2 separate regions of the Homo sapiens genome follow, and region 2 is linked to region 1. The links come from fine-mapping of genetic effects on gene expression. A gene starts in region 1. The other region holds a variant in brackets. All regions are shown on one strand. Distances are between the middles of the regions.

Region 1 (2,909 bases):
AGATCTCGCACCAAGCCTTGCCGAAGTACCAGTAGCCCATGACCTCGTTGGCCAGCGAGAAAGGGATGACGAGCGTGGCCACCAGGATGTCGGCCGAGGCCAGAGACACCAGGAAGAGGTTTTGGGGCGCCTTGAGCGCGCGGCTCGTGAACACGGCGATGATGACGAGCACGTTGCCGAACACGGTGAGCAGCATGAGCAGGCCGGCCAGGCACACCAGCGTCAGCGTCACCTGCAGGGAGTAAGGGGTGGCCCGGGCGCCGCCCCCCGGCGCCTCGGTCCCGTTCCAGCTCGCGTTGCCCGCGTCCGGCTGCAGGGAGCCCATGGGCGCAAAGCTGCCCTCGGCCAACGGCTGCTCCTGGCGGAACATGAACGCGGGCGCCCGCTGGCCTGGGCCTGCTGCCAGCTGCCTTCCGGCCCGGCGCCCGTGGGTCCTCCTCTTCCTCCGGCGCCCCGCTCGCCTGGCTGCGGCTCACATAGGGAGGGGGCCGCAGGGAGGCCGGGCCCGAACTGGAGGACCGCTAGCGGCCCATGGCCCGGGTCCCGCGAACTGCGCCTGGCTCGCGCTTCAGACGCTCTCGGTGGGCGCCTTCTTGCTCCGAGCTCCTAATACAGCCAAGTTTTATTTCTAAGCGGCGGGAGAGAGTAGGGAGAGCCGATGGGTAAAGAGAGATTTATTCTTCAAGAAGGGAGAACAAAAATCATCGGTGGCCTGATAACTTGGAAGGATGACAGGAAATTAAATATATATATACATATCAATATCTGTATCTTGAATCTTGAGCCTGAGCGAAAGCAAGAGGTCTTACCGTGTGCGGGGCCCGCCCCCACCCCGGGAGGCAGCCGAAGGGTGCTGATGCGAGCTCGGGGGTCCTATGTCTGTCGCCTTACATCCCCGAAGCGATTACCGACTCTCTGGCTTCCCCCAGACGCTGCGGTTCTGGCCCGGCCCGGCCCGGGGCTGGGGCGCGGACTCTGCCGCCTCTCGGAGCGCCGCGAGACTTCCAAAGTTGTGCGCCCTGCTGGGGCTGGGGCACACTGTGCGGAGCTCCGGGACGGCGGCGGCGGCGGGGTGAGGAGTGTGGGGGCCGCATGAAGGCACCCCCGTCCTCAGGCGGGCCGGGGCAGGTGAACGATCAGCTCTCCAGGAGCCGCGACGGAGGCAGGGGTTCTCCTGGGCGTCCGCCTGGTGGGCGCCGAGCGCTGCTGGATGGGCCGGGGTCCGACGACAGCGCGAGTTGGGGCAGGAGCGCAAGGCGGGGAAGAAGGCGCTGGAGTGGCCGGGCGGCGGCACGCCGGCTGCTGGGCTTCTGCACCGAGCTGGAGCTGCTGCTGCTCCGCTGCGCTCACGGTGGACTCGTTTTATAGCCCCAGGATCAAGCAAGCGTTGCTGAGCAGCCGGCGTCAGCCCCCACGTGGGAAGCCGACCCTCCCCCGCCCCTCGCACCACCCCTCCGCCAGTCTAGCGCCCGCGCCTAGCGCTGGACCTCGGGGAGCGTTGCCCTCAGGCGGGACGAGCCCTTTGGAGAGGCGGGTACCTTGAGCTAGAGACTTAAAGAGGGAGCCCGGGGGTGGGGGGTAGGGGAGGAGCGGCCCCTGCTGGGAGTTGGCCATGCAGCTCCGGGCCGACGGAGCAGAACGCAACGGGCACCCGTGAGTGCCCCCAAGAAGCTGGATCTTGGGAGAAAAGGGAAGAAAAAAATGGAAGGGAATCCCCGCCCAAATCGAGGGAAGTAACCTCCGGTGTGAGTTACGTCTGGAGCAGCCCAGCTCCGGGCCAGAGCCGACGCGGTCCGCAGGTGCTCCTGGAGGCTGGGGAGAAAGGGGTCCTGGAGAGGGAGGAAGGCGCGGCTTCGGATGGAACCCCTGGGGCGGAATGGACAGCACCCACGGGGAAGTGGTACAAGCCGGAGTTCAGACCTCCGCTTAGGGAAGAAGCGGCTACGTGTCCTCCCAGCCGCGATGCTGTCTGCGGGAAACGCAAGACCCGGGGTCTGGACCGCGCCCCCTTAGACCGAGGTGGGGAGGGGTCCAGGAGCCGAGCGCCAGGGCAAAGCGAGGACGCACTGACACCTGCTGGCCGCTCGTGGTCACGGCTGAGAAGCGACCCGCTGACGCCAGGCGCCTCCTCCCGTCTCTTAGGTCTTCTGCCAACAGAGCCTTCTCCTATCTCCGAACAAATTGGTTTCTAAGCTCAGGAAAGGAGAACCCAGAGTTTGAATTGCACCCTGCCGTGTTGCAGAAATCTTCCTAAAGCAGATACTCGTGTGTCTACCCCTGGCGGGAGTGGGGGTTTGTCTAATAAAGTCACATCAGGAAGGGCTCAGCAGGCACCGCCGGCCAGAACGGGCATCCCACTCTGGACCCGCACAGCCCACCCTTCCTGCAGATCCGAGAGAGGCCAGGATCCTGCCTCCTTGGTTGCACAGCTCTGGCTTGCTGGGAATCATTATGTTTTTGTTGAGGACCGAAAGCTAGACTCCACTCCCGCCCCGCATCCCACCCCCATTCAGATGTACACACAGCATCCTTCAATAAGGGGAAGAGGGAGTAGAATATTTTCCATGTTCTCTCTGATAAGAATAGCGGTGGGGGCGGGGGGGAGTGGGTGTGCGGCGAATGGCAAGTTTTTCCGTGCGTGCTAGCTGTCCTAGGATAGATTTTAACGGTCACTAGAGCACTAGCTTGCACCCTGCTAGCTGCACTTTTCAGATGAGAGCAAGCAGTTTAATGGTAAAACCCAAGAGGGTAGGAAATTTCAGCAGGAGAGAGATTAGACTTAAAGGAATGTCGTCTTATTTAAGGAACCACTAAACCAAAATGCCTTGTGCAGTCACCTAAGTTGGAATTCCAAGGATGGAACAGGCTGCCTCTCTGTGCAGCCAGCTGCAGGCTTAGGTCTGGCTGGG
Region 2 (2,909 bases), 87 kb before region 1:
ATGGGGTTTCACTGTGTTAGCCAGGATGGTTCTCGATCTCCTGACCTCATGATCCACCCACCTTGGCCTCCCAAAGTGCTGGGATTACAGGTGTGAGCCACCATGCCTGGCCAGAAGAGACAATTTTTTAATAGAAAAATTCCAGCTTTTTTAAAAGTGGAAGGAATAAGAGAAGTAGAAAATCACTATCAGAGTACCATAGCAATAGCTAGCTGCTGCAGGCAATCTCCACTGATGTATACTAAGATTAGTGGGTGAACTTTGAGAAACAGGATATTTGCAGAGCTTAAAGTATCTTCCACCAATATTTATTGATTACAGTGAAAGTTTTAAAATGTTCACAAAATTTTTGCTACTCCTCTCTCCCGGGAGCAGAGCTTACTTTCCCTCACTTGAGTGAGGGCTAGACTTAGCAGCTGTCTTCTGATGAACAGAATATAGAAAGGGAAAAACCATCACTTTCTAAGGGAGAAACCTGACAGACAGCATCTTAACTAAGTGATCAAAGTTAATATCACCAGTACTATGTCATATTGATATCATATAGCCCTTGATATGAGGTAATGAGAAGGAATCATCATCTCTGAGGCACCCTTCCCCAGTCCATAACCTGTCTGATCATGAGAACATAACAGACAAAACCAAACTGAGGGACACTACAAAACACTGAACCAACAAAGTGACAAGGCCATGAAGAAAAAAGGAAATATCGAGAAACTATCACAGACTGGAGGAGACTAAGGACACATCACAACGAAATGTAGTGTAGTATCTTGGATTGGCTCCAGAATCAGAGGGGGAAAATGTTAGTGGAAACACTTGTGGGGATGCAAATAAAGCCTGCAGTTTAGTTAATATTTGTTGTACCAATGCTAGTTTTTTAGTTCACAGAAATGTACCACAGTTGTGTAAGATGTTAAGATTAGGGTAATCCAAGTGAAAAATATATGGGAACTCTGTACTATCTTCACAATTCTTCTTGTAACTCTAAAATTACTTCAGAAGAAAACTTCTGAAGCAAAAACAATGTTTCCAAAAAGAAAAAAAAATACATGGCTTCAATCAACAAAGTTTTCAAAGTTGAGACATTGAAAGATTAACAAAATGGATAAATTCCTAGGACAACTGATCAATACAATAATAAAATAAACAAATAGAAGATGTCTACACTGAAAACTACAACACATTATTGAAATAAATGAAAGAAGATGCAAATAATGGAGGAATAGAGCATGCTTATGAATTAGAAGACTCAATTCTGGAAAGATGTCAAATTCCAAATTGATCTACAGTTGTGTGTAAACTCACTCAAAATTCCAGCAGGTTTTCCTTTGGAAGGTGACAAGTGATTCTAAAATATATAGAGATGCATGTAAAGCAAAAAGTAGTCTTGAAGAATAGCAACAAAGAACTTACACTACCTGGTATCAAATTTTCAGTGAGGTATTGGATGAACACAAAATGACCAACAACACAGAAGTCTATCCAGAAACACAGAAAGATGGCAGTCATCTGGTCTACAACAAAAGCGGATACACAGCGCAGC[A/G]GGAAAAAGATGACCTTTTCAATAATGGATGCTGATTCGCTTAGATATCTATATGGGGAAAAAATTAGTCCTGACCTCTACTACATACCATACACAAACAAGAGTTTCAGATGAACTGTGGATCTAAGTGCTAAAGGCAACACCATAAAACTTTCAGAAGAAAACATGAGACTATTTTTAGTACATTAGGGTAGACAAAGATCTCTTAAACCACAAAATATACTAGCCATAAAGGAAAAAATTGATAAAGTTAAGAACTTCTGTACGTTAAGAGATATTATGAAGAGGATTTTTTTAAAAAGAACTTGCCCAAAAATATATAAAGAACTCCTATAACCAATAAGTAAAAGGCAGACAATCCAATAAGACAATAGGCAAAAGACTTGAACAGGTGCTTCACAAAAGAGGATATCCAAGTTAGTTAATAAGTAGATGAAAACGTGCTTGGCTTCATTAGTCATCAGGAAAATGCAAAATTGAAACACCGCAATCAGATACCACTATACCCCCACAAGAACGATTAAAATGAAAAAGGCAAACATTGGCAAGTGTTGGGGACAATGTGAAGCAGCTAGAGCTCTCATATGCCACCACTGGTGGGAATGTATATTAGTACAAGCACATTGAAAACTGTTTAGCAATTGCTACTAAAATTGAGCATATGCATTCCCTAGTATCCAGAAATTTCATTCCTGGCAATATAACCAGCAGATACGTGTATCCATGTTAACCTACAGACATGTACAAAAACGTTTATAGCAGTATTACTCATAATGTCCTAAAATTCAAATAACCAAACATCTAGTAATAGTAGGATAAGTATTCATAAAAATACTACAGAATTAAAATGTTCAAACTACAAATAAATCCAACAACAGAGATGAATCTCAAAAACATAAACTTGAACCAAAGAAACCAGAGACACACAAAAGTATGAGTCTATATTTGTAGTTCAAAAACAGACAATCTGAACTATGGCATTAGAAGTTAGGATAGCAGATCTCTTATGGGGTGGTAGGGGACAAGTATTGACTGGAAGAAATCACAGGGGAAGCTTCTTGGTTGCTGGCAATATTCTATCTTCATCTGGGTGTTGAATAGAAAGGTGTGTTCTGTGTCTGACTGTTCATCAAGCGATACATTTATGACTCGTGCAGTTTTCAAAAAGGAAATTATGTACAATAAGATTGCTGGGGGGTGGGGAGAAAACCATATACATTGCTCTAAAAGATCCTCGGGAGCATTTTAAGGGAGGATGGTATTAGGAGAGAGATGGGAGCACCCCCAAAGCCTGCTTTACAGATTAAAGGGGAGTCCAGAGGCTATGTATGGGGCCAGGCAGTGGGAAAAGAATCCATAGGAA

Evidence for each region. PIP is the estimated chance that this variant, and not a neighbour inherited with it, causes the effect.
Region 2: its variant is the best candidate, but not a certain one, in a credible set for the expression of ADRA2A in nucleus accumbens (GTEx, PIP 0.64).

What each region holds. Positions count from the first base shown.
Region 1 is chr10:111,075,458-111,078,366 of GRCh38, reverse strand. It overlaps ADRA2A (adrenoceptor alpha 2A), which reads right to left and starts at 1,338. Exons shown (of 1, transcript NM_000681.4): 1 at 1-1,338. The coding sequence starts at 370. RefSeq lists a silencer at 1,326-1,375.
Region 2 is chr10:111,162,336-111,165,244 of GRCh38, reverse strand. No RefSeq gene overlaps it. Among named protein-coding and RNA genes, the nearest start is that of HEAT2, 49 kb to the right of the region's middle. The variant A/G (reference allele first, on the strand shown) is at 1,547.